4 linked regions of the Homo sapiens genome follow. The protein of the gene in region 3 purifies or fractionates together with the protein of the main gene of each other region. This does not show direct contact. Each region holds a gene or a part of one and is shown on either strand. Other genes may lie near its edges.

The links. The genes of interacting proteins can lie anywhere in the genome.
Region 1: the proteins of OGFOD3 (region 3) and ROR2 purify together in Homo sapiens (affinity purification with mass spectrometry; one large-scale study listed by BioGRID and IntAct). This does not show direct contact.
Region 2: the proteins of OGFOD3 (region 3) and MPC2 purify together in Homo sapiens (affinity purification with mass spectrometry; 2 studies listed by BioGRID and IntAct, with this or other methods). This does not show direct contact.
Region 4: the proteins of OGFOD3 (region 3) and F2RL1 purify together in Homo sapiens (affinity purification with mass spectrometry; one large-scale study listed by BioGRID and IntAct). This does not show direct contact.

The regions. Positions count from the first base shown.
Region 1 is NC_000009.12:91,940,229-91,943,728, reverse strand, and holds part of ROR2 (tyrosine-protein kinase transmembrane receptor ROR2 isoform 1 precursor), read left to right. Parts: intron 1-3,500. UniProt on the Homo sapiens protein: Tyrosine-protein kinase receptor which may be involved in the early formation of the chondrocytes. It seems to be required for cartilage and growth plate development. Phosphorylates YWHAB, leading to induction of osteogenesis and bone formation.
Region 2 is NC_000001.11:167,920,073-167,923,572, forward strand, and holds part of MPC2 (mitochondrial pyruvate carrier 2), read right to left. Parts: intron 560-3,500; coding exon 475-559; intron 19-474; coding exon 1-18. UniProt on the Homo sapiens protein: Mediates the uptake of pyruvate into mitochondria.
Region 3 is NC_000017.11:82,391,649-82,394,586, forward strand, and holds part of OGFOD3 (2-oxoglutarate and iron-dependent oxygenase domain-containing protein 3), read right to left. Parts: intron 2,896-2,938; coding exon of another isoform or gene 2,723-2,895; exon of another isoform or gene 2,683-2,722; intron 887-2,682; coding exon 750-886; 3' UTR 1-749.
Region 4 is NC_000005.10:76,817,608-76,821,829, reverse strand, and holds the start of F2RL1 (proteinase-activated receptor 2 preproprotein), read right to left. Parts: upstream 2,801-4,222; 5' UTR 2,648-2,800; coding exon 2,566-2,647; intron 1-2,565. UniProt on the Homo sapiens protein: Receptor for trypsin and trypsin-like enzymes coupled to G proteins.

The sequences.
Region 1 (3,500 bases), on a different chromosome or scaffold from region 3:
TACACAGATGGGGGAAAAGAAACCGTAATGTTGGACTCAGTGCTTTGACGGTGTATCCTCAGCCTACAGGAGAAACAACAACCTGAAAGCAAAACTGGCACCCTTCTTAGTAGGTTTGATTTTCATAGTGGTGTGGGTATATCCATTCTGAAATGACTTTGTGTGAATTGTGAGATTAGACAGATAAGAAGTGTGTTAATAGTGTTGTAGCCAGGGTGCTCACTGAGGAAGGAGGGAGATATAAGGATGGAATAGGGGAAGGCAAGGAAGAATCTGGAGGGGTTGAATTGGAATTGGAGGTATCAGTGTAACTCATGCTTTCATTTATATATATATTTGGTATATATTATGTTAAATTATGCACCGTAATTTGTAAAACATACTCTACACATAACAGTTATTTCTTAGCACCTCATTAGCAGTGAGCTTTCTTAGTGCCCAGATGTTGGTTTCTCAATACTGTTGCATCTTAAAGGAGCTAGAGAACCTTGGAGAAATGACTGAATATGGGATGGGGACAGGGAAAAATACACAATAAGCCTGAAACGTGTTCTTGTGTTAGAACGCAAGTGAGTGGTGAAAAGTGGTGGGGGCATGGCAGATGTACTCAGGGGCCAACTTGAAGGAGTTGCAGCCAAGTCTGGGACCATTTAGGCATCAGAATAAATAAAGACAAGCATGGATTATACAAGGAACAAAATAGGCATCCAGGACTCACCATTGATAATAAGTACATAACTATATGTATGAGTTTCTTAGGCCTGCTGTAGCAAAATGCCATAAACGGGGTGACCTAAAAACCAGAAATGTATTCTCCCACAGTTTTAGAGGCTAGAAGTCCAAAATCAAGGTGGCGGCAGGGCCACGATCCCTCCCAGGGCTCTAGGGGAGAAAACTTTTTTGCCTCTTTTAGTTCCTGGTGGCTCATGGTGCCCTTGGTTTGGAGCTATATCACTTTGACTTCTATCGCCATTTTCACATGACCTTTTATTGTAAGGACACCAGTGATTGGATTTAGGGACCACTGTAAATACAGGATGATTTAATCTCATGTTCCTTATTACTACTGGAAAGACTATTTCCAAATAAGGTCACTTTCTGAGCTTCTGGGTGGATAGGGAAACACTAATTTACTACAAAACCTAAGTGGGAGGGGTGGGGAAGAGAGGGCACTTCCTAGAGCAAAGTGCCAACTGATAAATGGGAGGCGAGTTGGGAATAATCACATTTTACAGCAATAACTGTACGGATTGATTTGGGCAGGCGTCATGAATGAGTGCTAAACTCATTAAAGAAGACATGTTTGATGAGGAGCAGGAAATGTCTGTGGTCTCAAAGGATTTCCCCACAGATTCCTTGTTGGCAAGGGACAGTTGCTAACTGTAGACTGGCGAGATTTGCATCCCAATACCTGGGTGGTCCAGGTTAATGCCACAGATTTGGGCAGATGGATGCCGTCCTTCCCAAGAGCATACATCATTTAGGTTGCTTTCTATCTGGGGAAGAGAGTCTGATTATGAGCAAAAATCAGCAAACGAAATGGAGGGACATTCTATGAAACAATGGTCTGTAGCAAAAATTGTCGAGGACATGAGCGATGAAACAGGGCAGGCCAGGTCCAGCTTGAAGAAGACCACAGGGGCCTGGTGTGGTGGCTCACGCCTGTAATCCTAGCACTTTGGGAGGCTGAGGCCAGCGGATCACAAGGTCAGGAATTCAAGACCAGCCTGGCCAACATGGTGAAACCTCGTCCTCACTAAAAATACAAAAGTTAGCCGGGCGTGGTGACATGTGCCTGTAATTCCAGCTACTAGGGAGGCTGAAGCAGGAGAATCACTTGAACCCGGGAGGTGGAGGCTGCAGTGAGCCGAGATCGTGCCACTACACTCCAGTCTGGGCAGCAGAGCAACACCCTGTCTCAAAAATGAAAGAGAAGAGAAGAGAAGAGAAAGGAGGGCAGGGCGGGGCTGGGCGGGGTGGGGAGACAGTACAATACAGTACACCACAGGGTAGGTAGAGAAGACAGTACAATACAATACACCACAGGGACAAGGCAGTCCAGTGCATGTGCTGGCCCTGACCCTGTGCTGGAGGGAAAAACATGCTGTCGTGGATACTAACGGAACCACTGAGGAAATTGGAAGGTGAGCGTAAGTTATTTAAACGTGTTGTCAGACTTGTCTTTCCTGAGTTTGTTAATTGTGCAGAGGTGGTGTAAGAGGATGTCTGTACTCATAGGACATACACGCTGCCATGTTAAAGGATAAAGGGGCTTGATGTCTCCAGCCTACTATTGTCATCTCAGACCATGATAAAGCCCATGGGGCAAGAGTGACACATTAGTGAACCTGGGCAAAGAGTAGAGGGAAGTTTCATGCACCATTCTTGTAACTTCTCTGTAAAGGCGAAATGGTTTCAAAGTAAAGAATTAAGGCCGGGCACGGTGGCTCACGCCTGTAATCCCAGCACTTCTGGAGGCTGAGGCGGGGGGATCACGAGGTCAGCAGATCGAGACCATCTTGGCTAACACGGTGAAACCCCGTCTCTACTAAAAATACAAAAAATTAGCTGGGCACGGTGGTGGGCGCCTGTAGTCCCAGCTACTTGGGAGGCTGAGGCAGGAGAATGGTGTGAACCCAGGAGGCGGAGCTTGCAGTGAGCCGAGATAGCGCCATGGCAGTCTGGCCTGGGTGAAAGAGCGAGACTCCATCTCAAAAAAAAAAAAAAAAAAAAGAATTAAAAATGTTAAATTCTAACAATGGATGGCTGAAGCCAGTGCAATGAACAATGGAGTTTAGCACATGCTGTTAAAAGAAAGACTCAAGGCCCGGCGAGGTGGTGGCTCACGCCTGTAATCCCAGCACTTTGGGAGGCTGAGGAAGGTGAATCACCTGAGGTCAGGGGTTCAAGACCAGCCTGTCCAAAATGGTGAAACCCCATCTCTACTAAAAATACAAAAATTAGCCGGGGGTGGGGGCTGGGTGCCTGTAATCCCAACTACTCGGGAGGCCGAGACAGAGACAGGAGGATCACTTGGACCCAGGAGGCAGAGGTCACAGTGAGCGGAGATCGAGCCACTGCACTCTAGCCTGGGTGACAGAGCAAGACTCTGTCTCAAGAAAAAAAAAAAAAAAGAATTGCACGTTATGATTTTATTGGAAATGGTGTCACAGGGACTGAGGATGGATGCGATCCAGGTGCTTTTGAGGCCAGACAGCATTTCATTGAAGGGACTGAAAATCTCTGTCTTTGTCTAGTTTCTGGATTGCCCCAAGTTTTCTGATTTTTCTTTCTTAAGATTTTTATTATAGAAATTCCAACACACATAAAATTAGACGACTGCAGTGAACCGCTGTATATTTTTCACTCAGCTTCAACAGTTGCCACGTTCATTTCGTTTCATTTCCCCCGGCCTACTTAACAGTCCCCAGACAGCCTTAATTGTTTACCTGAAAATACTTCAGCATGAATGGTAAGAACTGTTTTTTTCACACCATCTC
Region 2 (3,500 bases), on a different chromosome or scaffold from region 3:
ATCTTGACCAAATAAACCCTGTTGAAACAAAATGTTACTTTAAAAAGAATACATACTGCTTCAATAACTTCAGTGAATACTTAATATTGAGTAAAGTAATTACAACAATAATGTAGGATGAGGGACAAAGAAATGCTATACTCTGAATTTTCAATGTTTCTGTAACTTAGTGTCACAGAAAATACTCAATTCTTACATGAAAGAGGAATCTTTAAAGTGACTATTAACTGTAATTTTCTTCCCACTTATAAAAATATGTTCATGGCAAAAACCTGAAAAGCAAAAGCCCATTCAGATACTTATTCTTTCTGTGACTCCTCCATCCATAACTTAATAACTTCCTAGACATAATACTGTTAATTCCTTTGTGTGTGGGTGTATTTCAAACACTAAGCCACTAAATAAACTGATATAAAAGAAAACAAAAATCATTTATGTTCTACAAGAAACACAGAAGATATTTATTTAATTTACCTGTAGCCATCAAAACAGCAGATTGAGCTGTGCTAAGTTTTTCTGCAGGTCTGGCCATATCAGCCAATCCAGCACACACCAACCCCTACACATTAACGCATAGAAAGAAAAAAAGTATCACAAATGTGGAGTAATAGTTTTAACTTTAAATCAAGCACAAGACATTTTTGAGATTTCCGTAAGTTAGCAGCTATAATTTTAGTGTCCATTCATTAAGAAAATGTAGATTACAACAAAAAAAAAGCACAATGAATTAAAAAACTGCTTTTTGAACTAATTTTATTTTGTTAGGTACACTAAGCAGTCTCACATATCTGAAAGTCAGTAGTACATATATAGATAAGATGTATATGTATGCATTACACGTACATATATATTTTGGGTTTTTTTTGGTCTACCTATTTCACATATGAATTTATATACTCTTTATATATGTCAGGAACCACTAACCACTAGCATGGAAGATACCTAAAAGCTGTTAAGGTCATTTGTATAGATTCTTCCTTTGATGTTTTCTGCCAATGTTATCATTTTTAAATTAAATTAAATTTTAGATTTGGGGTATATGTGCAGGTTTGTTACATGGGTATATTGTGTGATGCTGAGGTTTGGGCTTCTAATGAATTATTTTTTAAAAGTATAAATATCAGAAAAACTTATAATTTTAGTTTTTTGGTTAGATCATTTTTTTTTTTTTAGACAGTCTCACTCTGTCACCCAGGTTAGAGAGCAATGGTGCGATCTAGGCTCACTGCAACCTCCACCTCCCAGTTTCAAGCAATTCTCATGCCTCAGCCCCCAAGTAGCTGGAATTACAGGCGTGTGCCAATATGCCTGGCTAATTTTTGTATTTTTAATAGAGACGGGGTTTCACCATGTTGGCCAGGCTGGTCTCAAACTCCTGACCGCAGGTGATCCGCCCGCCTCAACCTCCCAAAGTGCTGGGATTACAGGTGTGAGCCACCATGCCCGGCCTTGGCTGTTACGCCATTTTTCTTTAACATCAGCATATACATGGCCATTTCTCTTCTGTGTTTTTAACACTGTCTCTATTGCACTCATGCGTTTTTGCTCCCACCAGATGAGCTGTATTTTTACCAAGTCACTATGTTTGTCCCCAATCTATTTATGCCAGTTTTACTTGTTAATGTAATTTACATGATTTAATAAATTGTTTTTTTTTAAAAAAACTAAGCTGGAAATTATATAGGATGCACTGTAGTGTAATTTATCCAGGATAGAAAATGTGGAGCTCAGAAATCCATACACAAATAAAAGATTTAGCTTTAAAAAAGACTGATTGTCAATGAATATATATTTATATCCTTTAGGTTAAAATAAAATATTTAAGGTACATAGGTTTTTGTTTTTAGGATTATCCACTTTGACCTTTATGATTAGTTATGTGGTTTCAACTAAAGTGGTTACAAAGGACTCTACTACAGTTATATGTTTGAAGGCATATGGTCTGAGAGTCTTCATGTTATAGAACATATGTGGCTTGCAGAAGCAACTGTTATGTGTCATGTATAGAATTCTACAGATTAATTATCAAATACTCTGGGATAGTAAAACACAGTAAGAGGTATATAAGGTAAGTATCTAATAGAAGAAGTCTCCCCACCAGAGAACAAAACACAGAAGTTTCTATTGCTATGCTGTCATCTGGAGACTATGTATGATTTCAACATGTACTTAAAATAGATGTTCTTAAAGAGACAGATAGTCAAGAAGGCATTTATGAGTATATAATGCTGTCAATATCTCACAACAGTAATGAACCAGTTCAAATAAACCCCAAAGCTATTGATAAAATCAATAAACTCCTAAACTGTGGTAAATTTGAGATCAAAGAGGCCCCTAAATTTATTGTGAATAGATGAAATCACTCAAACTCTTTTAATGATTGAATACTTCAGCAATCAATTCCACTATAAAGATATATTATTACTATGTAATTTTAAGTGTAGGTAGGGAGAGAAGAAGGAAATGGTAATGTAACTTCCATTAGTATAGGGGGTTTTAGGATCTTTTCTCAATATGTAGATATGAAAAAAAAAACCTGCTCCCTAGATCTCTGTAAAATACAGCTCCCGAATGACTTATATTCTAATCTTGTCACTTTATAGTTGAAGAGACAAAATGACAAAGAGACTAAACTTGCCCAAGGCCATAAGATTGAGTCATAGCCAATTCCAACTCTAACATTCTCAACCACTTGAATTTACAACTGAGTTTCTGAATTGTTCTAACCATTTTAAAAGTACATTTAAGAGAATTACAACAGCCCATCACTCAACAACAACAAAAAACACCTTGATTAAATTAAAAAACAGGCAAAGGACTTGAATAAATATTTCTCCAAAGAATATACACAACTGACCAATAAGTACAATAAGTATATGTTCAGCATGACTAATCATTAGGGAAGTGCAAATAAAAACAAAGATATCTAACACCCATTAGGTGCCTATCATAAAAACAAAAACAAAAATGCTCCCCCATCAAAAGTAACAAGTGTTGGTGAGGATGTGGAGAAATTAGAACACTTATGAATTGCTGGTAGAAATGTAAAATAATGTAGTTGCTGAGGAAAACAAAAAATATTAAGCAGAATTATCATATGATCTAGCAATTCAACTTCTGGGTGTATACTAAGAAGAATTAAAAGTATTGACTTAAACAGATTCTTGTACATCAATGTTCATGGTAGCATTATTCACAACAGCAAAAATGTGGAAGCAAACCAATTGTCCAATCAACATATAGAAGAATAAACAAAATGTGGTAAATACATACAATGGAATGCTATTCAGCATTAAAAAGAAAGGAAAGTGACACATGTGACAACGTTAATGTACCTTGTGGACATTATGCTAGGGGAAATAAGCCAACTACAAAAAGACAAATACATTTTGATTCCATTTACATGAGGTACTTAGAGTAGTGAAATTCATAGAGACAGAAGGTAGAATGGTGGTTGCCAGGGACTGGGAGAAGGAGAATGGGGAATTATGGGTACAGAG
Region 3 (2,938 bases):
GGGGAGGAGGAGACCTACCCTCGACCCAGCAGAAGGCCCATGGGAGCCGGCACAGCGACGCCAAGAGCCTCCTTGGTGAGGACACTCGGACCCTGGCCCTTGGGATGCTGGCCGCTGACAGGGCCAAGCCTGGTGTGGTGGGGCCGTGGCCCACGGTGATTTGTGGGCCAGCAGCATTGGGGGTGCACGCAGGGCTGTGGGAACGGCAGATGTTCACCTCCACCTGAATCCAGCAGAACTCCCACCCACCCCAAAGGACCCCGTTGCTGCCTCCAGAGCCGCCACTCACGGACCCTTCTCCAAAGCTGCTGCGGTTTGCTGATGCCGAGACCCCGAACAGAAGCTGCTGGCCCCACGTTTGTCCCCATTTATGGCTGATGCTTTAGCCAGTCTTTGATGGGCCGGGGGGTTGCTGAACCTGGACGAGTCCCGGGGGGTTGCTGAACCTGGGTGGATGAGTCCCGTCCATTCACAGATGGGGACTTGTGCCCCGTCCTGCTGGGTCCCTTTCCTGGCCTCCACCTCAGGCTCCCAGGCCTACAGCCCAAGCACACATGATGCTGGAGAAGTGAAAAGCTGGTTCCCTTCATTTACTCACAGATGAAAAGATTAACACGTCAGCAAATCAAAATCAGAGAATTCCTAAGGCACTCTGTGCAACAGGAGCGGGTGGACGTGGGGGTGGGTGCACGACTGGCGCGGCTGCCTCCACACGGGCCCTCCTGAAGTTACCTTGGCCCGGCTGCTGGCTACGGGAACGCTGGGTCCTCGATGCCATGGTCGGGGTTGCAGCTGAAGGCGATGGTGATGGCGTAACGGGTGCCCCAGTGGACCTTCTCCACGCGGTGTAGGTTCTCGGACCCCGAGGTGAAGAAGGAGACGCGACCTGGGAGAGGAGAAGAGAGAGAGGTGGCCATAGAGCCACACCCACGGCCACAGCCTTCAGAGGGTCTGCGGTCACCTGAAAGAGCAACTATAACCAATCAACACAACCAACCAGGCAGGCTGGAGAAATTGCCCCTCTGGGAACTGCTTCTGCAGGAAGGAGGAGCTGGAGAAACAAACGCAGCAATGCTCAGGGGCCCTGTGGCGGAGGAGGGGCCCCCCGGGGCCAGCAGGGACTCTGTGGTGGGCAGGACAGAGGAAGATGCTGCAGATGAGGCCACCACTGGCTCCAGACACCCCAGGTCATCTGATCTCCCGAGCTCCGGGCATTTGATCTCCTCAGCTCTCATGGGCCTTCCAGATCTGACACTTTAGGATCTTATTTCTAATCACAGGTTGAGAACAAAAACCAAGCCCTGGGGGTGTTCTAACAAAGAATCAGGAAAGACAAGATAAAACATCCAACTCGCAAACACCTCTCTGTCTCCCTTCAAGGGGTGATAGAGATGACGTCTGAACAGGCAGCTTCCACGGCAGTAACCAGGGCCCGGGGCCTGAGAGGTCCTGGAGGCAGGGGCCTATCTCAAGAGACGCCAGTTCATTTGTCTTCACATTGAAGTGGCGCTGCCTACCCCACCGTAGAGTCCTGTGGTAAAGCGTTCACCGCTGGACACAGCCATCGACCGTCACCAAGTGGGAAGCAAGGGGCGTTGAGACTCAGAGGACACCGGGCTCCCCCACGTGGCTCCTGACGTCCTGTGACAATTTCATTCCCCTTCAAAGGTTACCACTGGAAATGCAATTCCTTCCTTTCACATTTGCAAACTTCACTCGATCTTTGAAAGGGGAGAGAAGTCCATCCCGGGTGTGCAGGGCATTCTAGCTTCAAGAGGGAGTCAGTTGCACTGTGCCTGGAAATAGTGGAGCAAAAGAAATCACGTGGATGCAATGGTCACCTCTTAATGGAGGCCGGGAAGCGCCCTGGGATGCAGGCAAGGCAGCCGATCTTTCCCGGACCGTGTGGGCCACCTCCAGATATGCAGGACACGTCCTTTTCCAGGTCGGCTGGAGTCAGGGCACCTTCTAACCTTACACTTTTAAAGGACACATTGTCCTTGGTTTCTTCCAGCTTCAATCGAGGCTGAGACATCGGCACAAGCAGGAGGGCCCAGCGGCTCGCGCCATTTGGGACCTCAGTCGCCCATGCTCGTCCACACTCTCTGCTCTCTACTGCTGGCAGACGTGGTTCTCAGGAGGCTGCCAGCATTCAGTAAAAGGAGGGTCTCCTCTGGCCCTCTGGTGTTTCTGCACATCTTGCAAACAGAGGCACCAAAGGACAGGGGGAAGGATGGAGGACAGCTGAGCCTCGTGAGCTGTGGGAGGCAGGAAACCACCCACCATCCACACTACTGAAGGCTCAGACGGAGATGAGATCAATACGGGGCCAGAAAAGGACTTTTTTTTTTTTTTTTTTTTTAGACAGTCTCGCTCTGTTGCCCAGGCTGGACTGCAGCGGCATGATCTTGGCTCACTGCAAGCTCTGCCTCCTGGGTTCACGCCGTTCTCCTGCCTCAGCCTCCCTAGTAGCTGGGACTACAGGCGCCCGCCACCACGCCCAGCTAATTTTTTTGTACTTTTAGTAGAGATGTAGTTTCACCGTGTTAGCCAGGATGGTCTCGATCTCCTGACCTCATGACCCGCCCGTCTTGGCCTCCCAAAGTGCTGGGATTACAGGCGTGAGCCACCACGCCCGGCCTAAGATGCACTTTCTTTAGTAAATGACTATTAGATTATCACCTGCTTCCTTAAAGCAGGACTCAGCACGGCAACCAAGGAATCAACAATAAGCAATGCTCTCAGCTTCCAGAATCGCATGTGTCTCTCCCCTCTCGGGCGGGTGGTGAGTCCCCGGAGGACACCTGACTCCAGCCTTCGCACCAGCAGCTTCACTGGCTCTCGGTCCATTAACTTCTTGGAACCCACAAGACATCATCCGGAAACAAAAACATCCTGGGGACACAGGACAGGGATTGTGTGGTAAAGGGTTGACTCC
Region 4 (4,222 bases), on a different chromosome or scaffold from region 3:
GGTGGGTGGATCACCTGAGGTCAGGAGTTTGAGATCAGCCTGACCAATATGGTGAAACCCTGTCTCTACTAAAAATACAAAAATTAGCTGGGGGTGGTGGTGCGTGCCTGTCGTCCCAGCTACTCGGGAGGCTGCAGCAGGAGACTTCCTTGAGCCCGGGAGAGGTGGAGGTTGCAATGAGCCAAAATTGCACCACTGCACTCAAGCCTGGGCAACCGAATGAGAGTCAAAAAAAAAAAAAACCCAAAAAACCAAAAAAACAAAAAAAAACCACCAAACCAATTATAAAGAAAACAGAAGTTCCAGTCTCCAAAAGATAAATGGAATGACCTAGGCCTGTAACATGGTGGAAAAAAATAAGTAAGTGGCAGAGAGAAGCTGACTGAAATGAACACCACATGGACCAGCCAGGGTACTCTGGGCAAGACTCCTCACTTCATTCATTTGCTATTTACTGAGGTCCCGTAGGTGATGAGACTATGCTAGACGTGATGGAAAGGATGGTAGGGCCCCCTGCCTCCAGGAGTTAACGATGCAGTGAGGACACATATTAAGCATGTTTACCCAAATAATTATCAATTACTATTGTAAAGGGAAAGAGAAGCCCTGATTTCCAAGTGTTTTCCTTGCCTTGCCTCCTCAATTCAGTGTCCTTCACCTGTACCCTGAGAAGGTTGTGATCTCGGCTGAGTTCGTTTCTATGAGGCAGTCTTTTGGAGTGAGGCTTTGGGAAGAAAATCAAACCCCAAATCGGCCCTGCAGCCACCTGAGGGGCACGCAGAAGGACCGGCTAAAAAGCGAGTGAGCAAAGACCCACCCTGAGGGCAGAAAAGCTTTGCTAACACTGTATTTCTTATTAAAATCAATTTAGTTTTAAGGTGGGAGGAAAGCTCCATCTGCCTAAATCAATTGTCAGTGTTACTTCACTAACCCTTTGGGAAAGTTACTTTGCAAGGGAATAAAAGTATGGTGGGGGGAGGATGAGGAACAAGGTGCAATATTAAGTGGCTATAGTTAACAAGTAACCTGATTTTTCCTTATTGTTAAATCAAGTTCGCCTTATAATCCAGGGATCTCCCAATCCCCCAAGAGTAGTAAACAAGAACAAGACAAATAATCGGGGCATGCTTCCTACAGGGATCTCTGAATCATAAAGATGTTGAATCAGCTATACCAACATGTATTTTTTTAAAGTTTGCACATACTAACCTTTGCTCCTGAATTTTAAGTTTCCAACTTTAAAGGACATAGAGGAGAGGTGTCCATTACAGTTTTCAATACTTCCTGGAACTAAATGCCTTTATTCTGATGCTGATTAAGAAAAAAAAATATACCAGCGGTGCACAGTTTTCAAGCTTACACCATTAACACCCTTTTCCCTAACTGCAGAGGGAAAAGAATCACATTCTTCCATCTAATTCCAACCCACTGTGACTTGCTCTTTTACTTCGTCTTTATGAAGAGGAGGATAAAAGTGAGAAATGCGCATTTCTGAGGGAAATTAAAAGCTCCCTTTGCTACCCAGGCTGCCCCAAACAGAGGGGCCTCGGTTAGGATCACAGTGGCGCGATCGCAGGTCAAACATCCCCCACGGCCACAGCGAGGCCTGCTGGGCCCGGAAGAACACACTCCCAGCAATACAAGTTCGAGCACACCCGGAGCAGCACATCCAAGGAACGCGACGGCCGGGCGCAAGTGCTGCTCTGTTCCCAGGCCAGCCAGCCTCTGGCCTGCAGACCTGGGTGGCAGCCAGTGGCCGCTCCGGGTGGCACACTAGGAAAGTCCCGGAACCCCAGGCCCAGAGGGTCAACTGGTCAAATATAAGGCAGGGTCCAAAAAGTTCCGCTCGTAAATCCTCGTGGCGCCCAACGGGCCTGAGCGCTCATTACCACCAGAACCCATCAGGGACCGGCCCTGACTTTCATACCCCGGGCCTTCCACTGTGGGTGCCAGGAGCAGCGGGACCCGGGTGGGTCTCGAACGCAGGGGCCAGAACCCGAAGAAAGGCTTCCAGCAGTTGGAGAGGGACGCAAAAAACAACCTAGAAGGCTCCCGGGCCGCGGGTTCCCACCCACTCCGCCCTGCCCTGCGCAATCAGCTCGCTAACCCCACCGGCCCCGCGGGGCCAGCGGAGGAAGTCTCCGGAGTTGGCAAAAAGCTCTTAATGACTTAGTGTTTACAAAGCAACCAAGCCCGGGGAGGGGACTAGGTCCTCTGCGTACCCTTTAGACACAGCTACTCCTTCCTTCCCTCCCTTTCCCCGAACCCACGCTGGGGCCTGGAGGTGCCCAGCATGACAGCCTCTACGGGAAGTGGGGTCTTTGGGGAAATCTCTGCCTCTGCCCGGCTCCGCTGACTTCAGCTGCTCCCGCATGTCCCACCTGGGTGCCTCCTTGGCGCAGAGACCTCACATCAAAGCCACCAAGGGGAGGCTAAGGGATTCGTAGAGATGGGTGCCGGCAGCAGAACAGCCTTCGCACACCTGCCCGGATCCCACCGTCTGCCCAGCGTGCCCAGGACCCCAGCTCCTCAGAGATAAGAGCCCTCCTTGGCCAGGTTTCTCACCTTGGATGGTGCCACTGCAGGAGAGAGAGGCTGCTAGCAGGATGGCGGCCCCCAGCAGCCACGCCGCGCTGGGGCTCCGCATCCTCCTGGAAGCCCCGACGCCGGGCGCGCGGGGAATCCGCCGCCGCCGATTCGAAACTCAGAGCTCCACTGGACGCACCGAGAGAAAGTCAGCCTCTCACCTGCCCCGAATCGGAGCCTCTGCTGCGCGCCTCCCCAGGGCGGGTTAGGTTTCAGGGAAACCGAAGGAGCAGCGTACTCACCTGCGGGAGGCCACGCCCCGGGACCGGAACGCGCGCCCTGGTCCCGCCCCCGGCCCCCTTCCCTGCGCAGCTGCGCCCTCCGCTTCCCGGACTCGCGCCAGGTCCCTTAGACTGCGGGAGCCGCCTGCGGGCGGGGTTGAGCGCATGAGGTGTCTGCTTTGGAATGCAAATAGCAGGAGCGCTGGGACCACGGGTTAATCCCTGCCTAGGCTATACCGCGAACTACCTTTAATCTTTACTTACTCCTAGAGAAGCGGGTCGTCGGTCTCCCTTGCCTTTCCTGACTGTGGGAAAGCCACGATTCGTACTCACTGCAATTGTGGTTGGTAACTGATACAGACAGGGCTTCCCGGTGCGGTGGACCCTGCAGGAGGAGGGATGCGTTTTTTATTGTAGAGGCAGGTGGGCAACTGCGGACATCACGAAAGCGGTGGGGAGCACAAGAGGCGGGGCGGGAAAGAAGACATGGAATGGCTACTTTCAGCGCCAAGTGCCAAAGCTTTAGAGAATTATCTTGCTTAATCCCCATAACAACCAGCGCAATAAGTATGATTATTCTTCCCATTTTACAGACGAGGAAAGTGAGCTTAGAAAGACCAGATAAATTGGCCAGAGTTACACGACTTATAAACACAGTGTATAAATGTTTATCACATTTCAACTCCAGTATAAGACTATCACTGTCTTCTATTCATCGCTGCACTATAAATGCGTCCACCAGGGCTCCTCTGCATTGGGATCCCATAGGCTAAATAAATACAAAAGCAGATAGAAGGGGTGGGAGAAGAGAAGTGTGGGGTTGGGGATGAGTGCATGAGGGTTGGCATCATATTGGTAATGTCTTACTTTTTGTTTTTGAGACGGAGTCTCGCTCTGTCTCCCAGGCTGGAGTGCAGTGGCGTGATCTCGGCTCACTGCAAACTTTGTCTCCTGGGTTCAAGCAATTCTCTGGCCGCAGCCTCCCGAGTAGCTGGAGTTACAGGCGTGCACCACATCTGGCTAATTTTTGTATTTTTAGTAGAGGCGGGGTTTCACCATGTTGGTCTGGCTAGTCTCGAACTCCTGACCTCGTGATCAGCCCACCTCCGCCTCCCAAAGTGCTGCGATTACAGGCGTGAGCCACCGCACCCAGCATGTCTTACTTTTTATTTGCTTTTTAAAAGATTGAATAAAACAAAGTCTACTGTTACCCATTTAAACTATTGGTACCAGAAGAGCACAGAAGAGAGACATAGGTATTTTCAAATATTTAAAGGATTCGCTTGTAGAAGAGGATTTAGATGTGTTTTGAGTTGCTCCAGAGAGCAAAAATTGGTGGAAGCCACAGTGGGGTTTAATTTCAGCTCAATGTATAAAGAAATTTTCTTTATTTTTTATTTTAATTTCTATTAGAA